Regions from separate parts of the Homo sapiens genome. Here region 2 is reported to be linked to region 1. Evidence: microRNA targets listed by miRTarBase, many of them from high-throughput screens and not tested one by one. Region 1 holds a microRNA gene; the other region holds the end of a gene's coding sequence.

Region 1 (7,262 bases):
CAGGTCTCCCCGCGCCAACGGACGCCCTGAGGCCTGACCCTGGCTGAGGCAGAGCACCCAGCTCCGTGGACCGGGACGGACGGGCTCAGGTGCCCCCCATTCCTTCCGAAGCCGGTTCACACCCACCCGGGCCTGGCACAGGGGAGGCGCTGGCTGCAGGGTCGGGGCGGGAGCAGCCTCAACCCGGCTCCTGGGCCGCGGCCGCAGCAGTGGAACCTGTCGGGGCAGGTAAGGGCGGGCAGCGGGGAGGCTGAGGCGCAGGGGGAGGCGGCTCCCTGCAGGGGGGCCCTCGCCAGCCCCCGCCGTGGCCGACGTGGGGCAGGGGCGCAGGTGACAGATGGGCTGTCGCCAGCCTGGCCAGCGTCCAGGGGAGCTCCGGTCACTGCAGACACAGGCTGGAGCGGGTCCTTCCCCCCCCCAGGGAAAGGTGGGCCCCTGCGCAGATGCGGCTGGGTTTCGGGTGTGGAGCCATCTTGGACCCACGGGCTGCGTCTTCCGGGCACGGGCACAGTGTGTGGGCTCCAGGCATGGGGTGCCCTCAGGGCAGGGCCTGGGCAGAGGGCAGGCTCCGAGAGGGGTCACGTTCTTGCCGCCTACCTGACAGCAGGCCTTCTAGAAAGTTCTCTCCAGAAGCAGCCACCGCCGTCCTGAGGCACTTTGTGCGGAGACGGGAAGCTGTCGCCTCAGAGGTGGGTGCGTAGAAGGGTTTGGCCGGGTGCGAGGATGACCGCGTCTCCCTTGGGCTCTGGAGTCTGCGGTGGGAAGGGCTTGGTTTCAGCACCCTCTGGTCAGAGGCCGGCCGAGCCCATGGGCGGTGAGGTTGGTGCCTGGGGTCGTGGCTGGTCTGGTACAGGTGGGGCTCAGCCCGGAGAAGCTGGAGCCGGTTCCCAGGCCCCGCGCTATGACTGGGGTGGGGGCAACGTCTCTCGTGAGGTTTTTTACTTAAATGTGAAACGGCTCAGTACGGTGGCCGCAGCCGGGAACAAGGTCCGACCCACCGAGGCCCAGCCTTGAACTTGCCGCGGGGGCACCTGAACACGGTTTTACAGCCCGGATCACTGGCTTTCTTGAAGTTTGGGAACTGATTGATCATGGTGGCGGGAGGTAAGGTTCATTGTTCTTGATGAACAAAATTCTTAGGGCGTGAAGAGCCGATGCTTTAATTAACCCCCCGGGAGCGTCTCAGGCCTCCCCCCGGGAGCGTCTCAGGCCCCGTTTACGCTGAGTGTCTGGGGAAAGACGTGGTTTGGTTTTGTTTTTCTAGTAACCCAGATGAAATGTTTAAAAGCATGGTTGGCAGCACATTGAATTTGGCAAAATTAAGGTTTGCATTTGTGAAAATGCGGATGCAGTTTGCGGTTCTTTTCAGACATTTTGGTAATTTGCAAATACTTATTTGCGAAACGAGTTTGTCAGAACATTTTTTAGTATCTAGAGGAAGATGAGATGGGCCGAGGAGGTCGCGCACCCCTGGATCCCTGGAGGAGCTGGTGTGTTCTCTGTGGGGCGGGTGGACGTGGCCCGGACACACGGGCCGTGCTCACAGCCGGCCTGCGAGGGCTGCAAATCCACGCCCGCCGTGTGGGTGAAATGGCGGCTTTGCCTCCCAGACGCGTAGCTCCGGCGACGCAGAGGGAAGAACCTGAGTGCCCGCCAGGCCGAGCTCCGCACCCCACCCCCCGGCAGCCTCTGACTCCCGGCTCGGCTCCCGCGGTCGGGGAGGGTTGGATTTCACACTTTGTTCTCGAGGCCGCACCATTGATTAAGCCCGTCGGGCAGGTTAACCAACAAGTTAGGTTTTCACGCCGGGATCACATTCCTCGCCGGGCGCTCCCACCCCACCCCAGCCTGTGCAGGTGGGACCCGGCCAGGCAGGCGGGCAGGGCGGCCAGGTGCGCCGAGGGGCGCCTCCACGGGGAGTGTGCTCCGCAGAGAACCCCTTGCTGGGGCGGCTCTGGGCCTCCTGACTCACTCCTGGATTTTCCCAAGCTGAGTCTGGCCCCGCGGTGATGATTAACCCAACACCTCAACCGGCACCGCCACGCTAGCTCCACTTCCCGGCGACGGTTGACAAGAAAGCGCCGCGTGGGGCTCTCGGAAAACAGGGAAGGTCCGTTTTCGCTTTTCATTTCTTGACCTGTGGCCACGGTAAGACTCGGCCGCCTGCCCACCCGACTCCTTGCCCCTCACCCCTGTGCCAGGCACAAGGCCCTGCGAAATCCTTGGTCCCCCAGCTGAGCCTGCCGGCCCAGGCCACCATCTCCCCACCCAGCCCTGGAGCCAGGGTCGGCCTCTCCTGCTAGCTGCTCGTTGGCTTTACAGCTTCTGCACTCAGGAGGCGCCTGGGAATCCTGCCCTGGAACTTAGGAAGGAGGCTTCTCCCACCTGCCTGCCACACGGGTCTGTCCCTGGGTCCCAGCCTCTGCCGTGTGCCCCTCAGCCTCCCGGGTGAGAACGCAATGACTGATGAGCCTGGGGTGGCCAGGCCAGCTCTGGCCCTGTGGGGTTCCTGAGAAGGCTGGCCCTGGGTGGCCAAGGGCCTGGGGACACTGGCCCCGGGCCCTGAACCTGGCAGTGGGAGGCCGGCCCGTCCGCCGGGTGGGCTGGGAACTGTGTTTGGCCCCAGCTGCAAGGGACGAGTGCCGGGCACCTGCTGCCCTCCCCACGTGACCTGGCAGCCAGGAATGGAGCTGAAATTCAACTCTGCTCTGAACGGGAAGTCTTAGTTTCCTTTAGCTCAGAAAACAGGTGAAATTGTGTTCCTGAAGCACTGATTTGATGGGATTTGATGGCATTGGTGGCGAAGGCCTGTGAGGTGATGGAAAGGGAAAGCCGGGTGCCCTGGAGCCTGACAGGCTGGGGCCAGGGCAGGGGACCTGGTGTGGGGTCTCCGGAGAGGGTCCAGGCGTGAGGGAAGCTGGGTCAGGACCTCGGAGACGTGGCCTTTGGAGGAGGAGACTGGAACCGGGTGGACCCGGCAGCAGGCGGGGGCGGGCGGACACGACCTTTGTTGTGGTCGGCGGGCAGACAGGGGAATCGGCACAGGGCCTGCGCCCCACCTACAGCCTCTGTGGGTGGAAGGTGCCAGAAAACTTGAAGAGTGGCTCTGGCCAGCTCTCTGGGCCCAGTTGGCACCAGGTGGTTGCAGAGAAAGGGTGGGAAGGAGGACAGGAAGGACGGCGTGTCCAGCGGGCGGGGAGCCTTGGTCTGGCCTGAGGGCTGAACCTCCCTCGGGTCCTGAGTGTGCCTGGAGTAGAAGCCTAGGGTCTCTGGGCTCCAGGCAGGGCCCTGAGCAAGGAGGGGCCACAGGGCTGCCCACTTCCTCCTGCCCCCCTGCAGAGGCGGCTCAGCCCTCGCGGCGTCTGAGGCTTGACTGCCTGTGTCTGTGTTTGTGGCCGGTCTGCCTCTGTGCCTGGGTCAGACCCCAGACCAGCAGACACACAAACCGCAGGGACGGCTGGGCAGGGTCAGGAGCCTGCCCCGCCCGCACCCCCACCCACACCCCCACCCCCACCCCCGCCTGCACCCCCTGCCCTCAGACGCTGTGCAGTGAGCGGGGCAGCATGGGAGAGGGGTCTCCAGGTGGCGGGGACCGTTCTGTCTCGAGAGCCTCGCAGACACCGGGCCTTTGAGAAGAGAAGGGGCTGGGCAGGGAAGCAGCTCCTGGAACACCATCCTGGAGACAGAGGCCCTTGTCCCCTGCCTCAGACAAGGCAGCACGTGGGGCCCGGGGGGCTGGGGCTGCTGTCCAGGCCTTCCTATGGGACCACCCAGAGGGAAGGTCCCCCGCAGAGGGGTGGGGGCAGAGGGCCGAGCGGGGCGGGCAGAGGGCCCGTGTCAGCCCCACTCCGACCTAGTCCTCGGCCGTCTGGCCAGGACACTTCGGCCCCCCAGGTGCCCACCCCAGGACCCAAAGCTGGTGGCTGCTGGACTCGGCAGGGCTGGCGGGTGGGGCTCACCCGGGCCCCTGCCCTCCGGCGATGCTGTCCTCAGTGCCCCAGGAGGACGAGGCCCCCCAGCTACTGAGCTTCCCAGCGAGTCCCATGCAACCCTCAGCCGGGCGGCCCCCGGACCCAGCTCGGGCAGCCGTGGCCATCTTACTGGGCAGCATTGGATGGAGTCAGGTCTCTAATACTGCCTGGTAATGATGACGGCGGAGCCCTGCACGCAGCGACCGGCCGACCCCGTCCCGGCCCCCAGGGCCTCCCGCCGAGCCCCACACTCCCCTCCCACACAGCCCGCTCACCGGACCCCACCCCGTCCGGGCCAGATGGCTCTGGGGAGAGTGACGGGGGGACGTGACCTTCGGAAGGGGGCTGGGGCGCCCCCCACCAGCATCTCAGAGACCCCGGAATGCAAGGCCTCCTGCAGCTGCACCCAGGGCGCCCCACAGTGATCTGGGGATTAGGACGCTCAGGTGTCCGGGCCCTGCCCACAGCGCCTGGGCGGGAGCTGCTGTCACACCCAGCAGGTGCGGGCCGAGCAGGACCCAACAGAGGGCTCAGGAGGGCAAGGCCCAACCGGGAGCCACGTGGAACCCAGAGGAAGCCGCCCCACCCAGCTTGGCCACAGCCATCTTCCCTCCTGCCGGACAGGGTGGGCCGGCCACCGAGCAGACCAGTGCCCCCGCCTTGGTCCCGGGTCAGCAGCCCCAGGGTCCCCTTGCCCTGGAGGAAGCAGGGAGGGTGGGCCTGTGTGCAGTCTCAGGGCCCCCAAGCCCCTCTCCGCCAGCCCTGTCCGGTCCCGGCACCACCCCTGGCTGCTCACCGCTCCGGTTCTTCCCTGGGCTTCCACAGCAGCCCCTGCCTGCCTGGCGGGACCCCACGTCCCTCCCGGGCCCCTGTGAGCATCTTACCGGACAGTGCTGGATTTCCCAGCTTGACTCTAACACTGTCTGGTAACGATGTTCAAAGGTGACCCGCCGCTCGCCGGGGACACCACCGAGGCACATCCGGAGCTCCTACTCCAGGGATGGGCTGGGGCGGAGGGCCGAGCGGGGCCAGCAGACGGGTGAGGGCGGAGGGCCGAGCGGGGCCAGCAGACGGGTGAGGGCGGAGGGCCGAGCGGGGCCAGCAGACGGGTGAGGGCGGAGGGCTGAGCGGGCGGCAGAGGGCCTGTGTCAGCTCCGAAGTCCAGCCCCCAGGGGAGGGGCCGGCCTCTGCCGGGGGTGCCCCCGGGGTCACTCACGCCCAGGCTGGGTCTGACACCTTGAGGACCCCTTGGTGCCTCCACAGGTGGCCTGGAGGGCATCCTGCTCCCCCTCCCGGAGCCGCTGTGCCTCCCCCACCCAACCTCCCAGGCTGGGTTTTAGGGTGACCTGGCTCCAGGAAAGGCCATAGGGCTGGGATGCCAGGGCTGGAGAGGGAAGAGCAACAGTGGCCTCTCTCACGTGGTCCGGGCTCCGTGGAGGGTCTGCTGGGGGCGCAGGAAGGACAAGGTGGGTTCAGATTCCCGAGCCCCACCATGCAGGGGAGCGGGGACGCTCTGCGCTTGCCCTCTGAGGGACAAGGGGTCTCATTCCTTCCCCCAGTCAACAAGAACAGGAACTTTGTCCAAAACCCACCAGGCCAGGATGACCCATTGTTTCATCTTTTCCATCTGCAACCAGGGCGCCTGGGACCGCACCCCCACACAAGGCCCCAGCCTGGGGAGGGGGCAGCCACCGGGGAGAGGCTGCCCTTCACTGTTACTCATTAACCCGACCGAGCTTCAGGAAGCCAGCGAGGGGCTGCAGGGAACCTTTGCCAAGAGCAGGGCCTGGGTGACCAGGTGGCTCCCGGGTACCCCCACACAGCCAGGCTGGGCTGGGACCAGGTGCTGGGATGGGGGCTGTCAGGGAAGTGCCTCGGGGGCTCGTTCTGCAGACCCAGGAGGGATCAGGGCAGCTGCAGGAGGTGGCAGGAGCCGCCCCCGGGGCCTTCCCTTCACAGGCCCCGCAGACACCAGCCCAGGACCCGGAGGCCACCCACACCACCGCCGGCCGATGGGCGTCTTACCAGACATGGTTAGACCTGGCCCTCTGTCTAATACTGTCTGGTAAAACCGTCCATCCGCTGCCTGATCACCGTTAGAGGAGAGAGCTGCCTGCCCTGCAGCTCATCAGTGCAAAGCCGCCCGGTCTGGGGCTCTCATGCCCCCCTCACTATGGCCTGTGCCCATCCGCAGCCCATCAGTGCAAAGCCGCCGGGGTCTGGGGCTCTTGTGCCCCACCCTCGCCATGGCCTGTGCCCACCCGGCCTCCTGGGGCCCTCGAGCTGTAGTCCCCGGGCAGATGCTGTGGACCCCGTGCTATCAGCCTGGCCCCTGGGGTCACAGTCACAGATACCCGGAGCCCCACCCCACAGCCCCAGCCCCCTCGCCACCTGGGGAGGCTGAGACAGAAGCAGCTGGGCCCCCCAAAGTGCCTGAGCCCAGGGCACGGAGGAGCACAAATGCCCAGCAGGGACAATGTCACAGCGTCTCAGCGGCCAGGCAGCAGGACGCAGAGACCTCTGGGAGGTTCCCGGGGCCAGCCCTGGCCCTCCTCCTCCAGGGGCCAGCCGTGGGATGCAGACCACACTCTCCCTCCAGGGCCCATCTCTGGGGCTGAGGCGGGCGGGGCCGGTGCCCAGCTGCAAGACCATGGGATAGGGAAGGCAGGTGCTTGGGGCCACGCAGCCCTGCACTGGGGGCCCCTCCACCCCAGGCGGCTCACGAGGTGTCATCTGGAGCTGTCCCCAAGCCGGGATCTGCAGGTTGACCTCCCCCACCCGGGGCTATCTCCAGACCCTCTTTCCTCCCTGGGGAGATGGGGCAGTCCCCCGCAGGGCCAGCTGAAACCACCCCCATGCTGCTGCCGCCTGAGCGACGTGTGTGGGGAAGAACTTGGAGTGCCACCCCCAGAATGTGGCGTCCACCTCACCAGACCGCACGGGTGAGCCCTGGACTGCAAGGTGCATATAACACAAGGTTTGGACACACCTGGAGAGCTCGGGCCAGGCAGGGCCACACCTGTGAGCCTGAGCTCATCCAACACCGCCCGGAGCTCGGGGACCTTCCCCATCCCAGCACCTCCTCACCGCTGTGCCCGTCTGGCCAGTCCCTCCAAGCACCCCTCGGATGAAGTTGCGCCCCACACTGCAGTGGGGCTCACTCTCCACAGCGCCTGCTGCGTTGCACGGGGTGTGACAGGAAGGACCCTGCTGGGGCTGGCGGGGCCGTACCCAGAGCCTCCCTGTGCGGTTTCTCCTCCTCCTCCTCCTCTCCATAAGCACCGGGAACAA
Region 2 (7,000 bases), not on the chromosome of region 1:
TCAACAGTCTCCTGGATTGCTCAGAGGCACCTCTTAACATATGTAAACCAGAGGGCAACACTGACCTCCCCAAACCTGCCTCTCCTCCTTTATGCTGCCCTATCCTATGAAGATTTTTTTTAAAATCAGGGCCGGGCACGGTAGCTCACGCCTGTAATCCCAGCACTTTGGGAGGCCTAGACAGGAGGATCACTTGAGCTCAGGAGTTCGAGACCAGCCTGGGCAATGCGGCGAAACTCTGTCTCTATAAAAAAAAAAATTAGCTGGGTGTAGTGGTGTGCACCTGTTGTCCCAGCTACTTGGGGGGCTGAGGCAGTAGGATTGCTTGAGCCCAGGAGGCAGAGGTTGCAGTGAGCTGAGACTGTGCCACTGCATTCCATCCTGGGTGACAGAGCCAGGCCCTGTCTCAAGAAATAATAAATGAATAAATAAATCAGGAAATTCCAATTTTTCTATTCGTAACATAGGTCTTACACTGACCCATATAATTTGGGGAAACTCCATCACTAAACTGAATTCTCTCTCTAAACTCTGCCTGAGGAGCCAAGACTAGGATAACTAGAGGAGGCCAAGAAGAGTGGTGCAGTTACCACAATTTTGTGAGGTGACTGTCTGGTCCCTTGCTCCTTACTCCCCTCAGAGGTAGATATGTAGAAAACTTCTGAAGATGTCCCCACACATAACATGTAATAACATCTATTGTGCCTGTACTTGATCAACATTTATAAAACTCCTCAATGAAAGCAGCAGTTGCTAATTCCTACAAAGAGTAATTTACATTTAGCATCCACTGACTGAATAAAATACCTAATGACAAAATGTTACCTTGAATTCAGTAATGATTTTAGATGAATCAGAATTTTCATTAATCATATCACGTACATATTTGTGAAAATGGCACAAAAATTTAAAACATGGTTATTCAGTCTCAAGGGTGTGCTTAGTGTGGAGTGACCCTCCTGCTCAGAACTCTACGGTTCTCTCACAGGTTTGCAAGGCAGTGCCAGAGAACAATTTTCAAAAAATAAATTAAAAAAGCAGAAATGAAAAAATCCTTGAAATGTTTTTTTTTTTCTTTCTTTCTCAGGGAGGGGCTTTCTATTTCATGGAGCATGTGGCAGCTGAGTGTTCGACTTGGAATTACTTCTGGCAACAAGTCCTGGATCCTGCCTGGCACCTTCTGTTTGATGGGTGCAACCTGACCAGAGAGAGCTGGAAGGCCCTGGAGCGGGCCAGCTTCTCTAAGCTGAAGCTGCAGCACATCCAGGCCCCACTGTCCTGGGAGTTGGTGCGCCCTCATATCTATGGATATGCTGTGAAATAGTGTGAGCTGGCAGTTAAGAGCTGAATGGCTCAAAGAATTTAAAGCTTCAGTTTTACATTTAAAATGCTAAGTGGGAGAAGAGAAACCTTTTTTTTGGGGGGCGGTTTTTTTGGTTTGTTGTTGGTTTTTTTTTTTTTTTTGGCGGGAAGAAAGAGTTTTGCTCTTGTTGCCCAGGCTGGAGTGCAATGACGTGATCTCCGCTCACTGCAACCTCCACCTCGCGGGTTTAAGCGATTCTTCTGCCTCAGCCTCCCTAGTAGCTGGGATTACAGGTGCCCACCACCATGCCCAGCTAATTTGTATTTTTAGTTGAGACAGGGTTTCACTACGTTGGCCAGGCTGGTCTTGAACTCCTGATCTCAGGCAATCCACCCACCTCAGCCTCCCAAAGTGCTGGGATGACAGGCGTGAGCAACCGCACCCAGCTTAAGGTTTTTTTGTTTTGTTTTGAGACGGAGTTTTCGCTCTTGTTGCCCAGGCTGGAGTGCAATGCTGTGATCTCAGCTTACCACAACCTCCACCTCCCGGGTTCAAGTGATTCACCTGCCTCAGCCTCCTGAGTAGCTGGTATTACAGGCATGCGTCACCACGCCGGCTAATTTTGTACTTTTAGTAGAGATGGTGTTTCCCCACGTTGGTCAGTCTGGTCTCAAATTCCTGACCTCAGGTGATCTGCCTGCCTCGGCCTCCCAAAGTGCTGTGATTACAGACGTCAGCCACCATGCCTGGCCTGAAACCTTTTTTAGGTAAAGTTGAATTCCATCCTTAAAAGTTTCTGTTATATCCTATTTAGCCATTTTCTATTGTCTCCCAAAGAATTCACATCAAAAAAACAGCTTTGAACTCCCCCTTCAAAGGAAACAGTCGACTTTCATAATTAGCATCTACCATTATCCCCAAATCTTATTTTATTCATTGACTTGAAATTTTTTCCAATTGCTTTTTTTTTTTTTTTTTTAAGGTTAAGAGCAGAGGTTTACTAGGCCAAAGAAAGAGAATAGCTCTCTGTTGCAGAGAGGGGTCCTGGAGAAATGGGTTACCCCAGTTGTCTTATTTAAATGGTTACCCATCAGATTTTAATTTTATCTTCTCTTTGAGAGCTTGGTAATAAGAAGCACTTAAATCACTCCAAAGAAGACTTTAAAAAGGGAGCAGTGAAAAGGTCTTAATAATTTATTGATTGAATTAAGAAATACTAGCTAATTAAGAATCTGAGTCTAAACAGCACAGATTTTTTCTTTCTGCTTTTAAATTGTGTTTTAAAAAAAGAGACAGGGGGCTGGGCGTGGTGGCTCACGCCTGTAATCCTAGCACTTTGGGAGGCCGAGGCGGGTGGATCACGAGGTAGGAGTTAAAGACCAGCCTGGCCAACATGGCAAAACCCTACTAAAGATACAAAAAAAAAAAAAAATTAGCCAGGCGTGGTGGTGGGTGCCTGTAATCCCAGGTACTTGGAAGGCTGAGGCAGGAGAATCTCTTGAACCCAGAAGGCGAAGGTTGCAGTGAACCGAGATCATGCCATTGTACTCTAGCCTGGGTGACAAGAGCAAGACTCCGTCTCAAAAAAAAAAAAAAAAAAAAAAAGAAGTAGAGACAGGGAGACAGGGTCTCACTGTGTTGCCTAGGCCGGTCTTGAACTCCTGGGCTCAAGTGATTCTCCCACCTTGACCTCCTAAATTGTTGGGATTACAGGTGTGAGACAGTGCACCTGGCCGAAATAGCTCAAGTTTCTGAAAAACAAATCTGAATCTATTTGTTATTCTTAGCGTCACTGGTCTGGCTTTCAGAATTAACATACAAGGTTGCCACACCTAGTTCTGCCCAGCTTTATGTCTTTTATTCCAGTATTCCACCAAAGTTTGTTTTCCTGCATTCCAGTTCTCAAGTCTTAAGATAAAGATTGTACTTGACAGTTTAGTATATCCATAAAACTATTTGAGGTGGTTAAGGTTCTTGGGTTCATTTTCCTTAATACTTTGCTGAATATTGTAGATTGTAGGCAATGAAAAAGTCTACTAAATTAGGAAAACCTTGAATAATTAGGTATCCTAGGTAAGAGCCCCTAAACATCAAGCAATCTGTGAGTCTGTAAAGAAATAAATATTTTTTGGATTATTCTTATCTAATTCCACCCCTGTTGGAAGATGATTTCTTTGTTCTTTGCAACTATGGAAGCTGTGAAAATCATCACAAGTGCCTCTGAAAGCGAGTGTTAGGTTGGTTAGAGGGTTTAATATTTTCTGCAATGGTTTGTAGGAATTTTAATAAATGTAGTATATTTTCTGAGATGATTTTGTAAAAGTACTATTTTAAATATCAAATCAACCAATAAATTCACATTTGTGTTAGGAACAGAAATATGGTTTATATCTTTGCTGGCTTGGTTTCCTTTTTCTTAATGTCTCTGGGAGGCTTATTCCTTCATTGTGGAAATTTTAGCTATTTAAACATGTAAATTTTTCTTTCTACAGCCAGGTAACTATAAACACAGCCAATAGATTTTACACAAAGCAATCCTAGAAGTATCAGAATGGGTTTTGAAAAGTTCAAGTCCATCATGTGATCATGTTTGGCTACTTTAAAAAAGCAAAAAAGTTCAAGTCTAACGATCCCATTTGTGAAATCCACAGAGCAGAAAGAAAGGAAGCTTTTACTATTTTAACTATCTCTTGAACGTGAAAAGTTATTGATGCAGTGAGGTCGAATGCACACCTACTGCTTCCTAAGCTCTGGAACATGAATCTCCTTCCTCTGTCATCTCCCCAGAATTGGAACCTCCTTAATCCAACCATCTCACTATTGGTCAGTCTAGTGATTGAGAAATAGGAAAAGCCACAGGTTGAAATGATGAAATGTCATTACACTGAAAGATAATACCAAAGTACAAAGTCCTAGGCACAGTCTTGTCAATTCCCTCTTGTCTAAGTGGTGTGGCAAATATTATTGTCACTTTTCAGAGAAAACTGAGGTGTAGAGAAATAAATAAATGAAGTTTTTTACAGTCATTCCACAAGTTACTGAGCAAGTCTTAGAAGCCCTGACTCCCCAAACCACAAAATCTCCTTTGATAATCATTGCTGCCATAACACCTTCTTTTACTGCTTTCCTCCTTGAATCCAGAGAACACATATTTATAATCATTTTAAGAGCCTGAGGAAATGACTTCAGCCTGTGCAAAAGGGAGAAAGAAAAAAAGGCAAAACATGTCCAATGTCTTTTAGGTCCTATATTGGTTAGGAATCCTTTGATTCCAAGTGACAGAATCCCAATCCAAACAGACTTAAGCAGAAAAAGGACTATCAACTCAAATTAGTGAAAATCATACAGGCAGAAAGCCTCAGGCACAGCCTGAACAGGGCTCAGATAATGTTATCAGGAGCCAGACAATCTCTAGGGTCATGTCTGTCCTCCCCTCTGCTCTATTAGGTAGCAAGTTGGTAGAAATGGCTCTGACCTTCATGCTTCCAGGGCACAAGCCCAGTTAGAAAGAGCAAGCCTACTTTTTGTGGCCATACCAGACCAATCTGATTTAACCTTTATGTAACAAAGTTGTGAGTTGTTTTTCAGTTGCCAATGGACCCTCAGGTCATGTGCCCTGAGCACACCCAGATGAACCAAGCCTGCAACCACAGGGGGAACCTAAGCTAAGTGCTCAGTCCAAGGATGGGGACTGAATTAAGAAGCAGACACATGGGAGGATCCATGACCGATCAGATCAAGCTGTGGTATCACCCCATGGCAGGATCCAGTCAGATCATGCCTCCCGGCATCACCTCATTGCAAGATCCAATCAGATCATGCCTCATTACCCTATACTTACAAAACCTGACCAAGCCCCCAGCTCTGGGAGATACTGCTCTGGGAGATACAGCCCTGGCATTCTCCTTACTTGTTGCAAGTAATAAAATCCCCTTGCTAAATGCTCCTTGGTTGTGGTCATTGGGTTGAATTTGCAATGGATGCTAGGAAGGCACATAACAAATATACATTATAAACCCATTGCTGGATTTCACCGGATTTGGATCAGACCCTGTCTGTCTTCCTATGGGAGATCATATAGTACAATGCTTAGAACACTGGATTTTCAGTGGGATAACTGCTTGCAACAAAGAAAGTAAAAGACAAATTGAAACACTGGCTTTGGCATCAAAGTGACATGGTCAAGTCCTGGTTGTGTCATTGGTTGAGTCTGTGACCTTGAGCAAGTTATCTGTTTTTTCATCTGTAAATGGGGGTATCTACCTAAAAGGTTATGCTGAGGAGTAAATGAAGCAATGCACTTGGCACTTAATATAGGTTGACTTCATTCAACAGATATTTATTGAGTGTCTACTGTGTGCTCTGCTCTTAGTGCCTGGCTTAGAGCCCTGAATAACTAGACATATCCCTGCCTGCGTGGAGCATACAATGATGATAAATGTTTTCTATAGATGAGGAAGAAGCTCAGGGTGCCCAGCGAATGTAATCTGACCTATCCAAGAGGAGAAGCTCTGAGGCTTTCTTGAGGAAGTAACATCTGAGCTGAATTCCAAAGAATGAAAAAAGAATATTTCAGTCAACTAGAATAGCTCGTGCCACAGCCAAGTGAAAGGAGGAAACACACTATATTCAAGGAAATGAAAGAAACCAGACAGGGCTGGGCACCAGAGCCTCAAGGGCAGATTCTAGGATGGTTACTATTTCCATCAGTTTCTTCCTAAATCTTGTTAAGACCCTGGGACAATGAGCCAAATGCTTATTTTAATGGCTGACACACACACACACACACAAAGGTACATTAAAATGTCTTATATTCTGAAACATTTTTTATTCCCAAGTGTTCTAATATTCAAATTGTTTCATCTGAATTCCTACATAGTTCAAACTTGAATAGAAAGTAAAGCAGACATTGCCTAATAGTTCCTTTTGTACTCTTGATCGTACCATAAGCCTTCCCCTTTCGTCTTGGTTTAGAAAACACAGAACTTAACATAACTGAAATTCTTGTTTATCTGTTAAAGTAATTAAAAGTCTGATGAATCATAGCAAACCAGTACCAACAAAAGCAAAAAGGCAAACTGTTCAGTATCACTTTAACTCTCTCAATATTTAAAACCAGAAGCATTAGGCTACATTAAAAAATAAAAAGAATTCCCTGTTGAACTGTGGAGCCACTGGTTAATCCCAGTGCCAGAGAAACGGAGCAGAGGTCACCTGAACAAAGGGCAAAGTAAATAATGAACCAGCAATGTGCAAGGTATTATTTTGTTTCTAAAGGAAACCATCTTGGGAACCTGCAGAGAACTACATGGTAACATATATGTGAACTAGGAAAATTACCATTCAGAATTTACCGTTTTTTGTTTTGTTGTTTTTTGAGACACGGTCTCCCTCTGTGGCCCAGGCTGTAATGAGGTGGTGTGATCATGGCTCACTGCAGCTTCAATCTCCCAGGCCCAAGTGATCATCCTGCCTCAGGCTCCTAAGTAGCTGGGACCACAGGCATGCACCAGCACACCTGGTTAATTTTTTTATTTTTAGTAGAGATAGGGTCTCACCGTGTTGCCCAGGCTGGTCTCAAACACCTAGGCTTAAGTGATCCTCCCTCCTCAGCCTTCCAAAGTTCTGGGATTACAGGCATTAGCCACCACACCCAGCCCCAGAATTTAACATTCTTAAAAGTAAAAAGCATGATAG

The links. The annotated mature microRNA hsa-miR-200b-5p reads CAUCUUACUGGGCAGCAUUGGA and lies in region 1 at 4,094-4,115, shown strand. An mRNA with a match to its seed (bases 2 to 7 or 8) in the 3' UTR can be bound and repressed. Matches are read on the target gene's strand: a 7mer-m8 pairs with bases 2 to 8, a 7mer-A1 pairs with bases 2 to 7 and ends in A, and an 8mer does both.
Region 2: miRTarBase lists TMT1A as a target of hsa-miR-200b-5p. Seed matches in the 3' UTR shown: 7mer-A1 at 3,214-3,220.

What each region holds. Positions count from the first base shown.
Region 1 is chr1:1,163,031-1,170,292 of GRCh38, forward strand. MIR200B (microRNA 200b) reads left to right here and starts at 4,074; the gene lies at 4,074-4,168. MIR200BHG (MIR200B, MIR200A and MIR429 host gene) reads left to right here. Exons shown (of 2, transcript XR_007065348.1): 1 at 1-228; 2 at 605-7,262. MIR200A (microRNA 200a) reads left to right here and starts at 4,833; the gene lies at 4,833-4,922. It overlaps MIR429 (microRNA 429), which reads left to right and starts at 5,975; the gene lies at 5,975-6,057.
Region 2 is chr12:50,928,827-50,935,826 of GRCh38, forward strand. TMT1A (thiol methyltransferase 1A) reads left to right here. Exons shown (of 2, transcript NM_014033.4): 2 at 1,088-3,682. The coding sequence ends at 1,324. It also overlaps a transcript of HIGD1C not described here. Among named protein-coding and RNA genes, the nearest start is that of TMT1A, 7.3 kb to the left of the region's middle. RefSeq lists an enhancer at 5,000-5,294.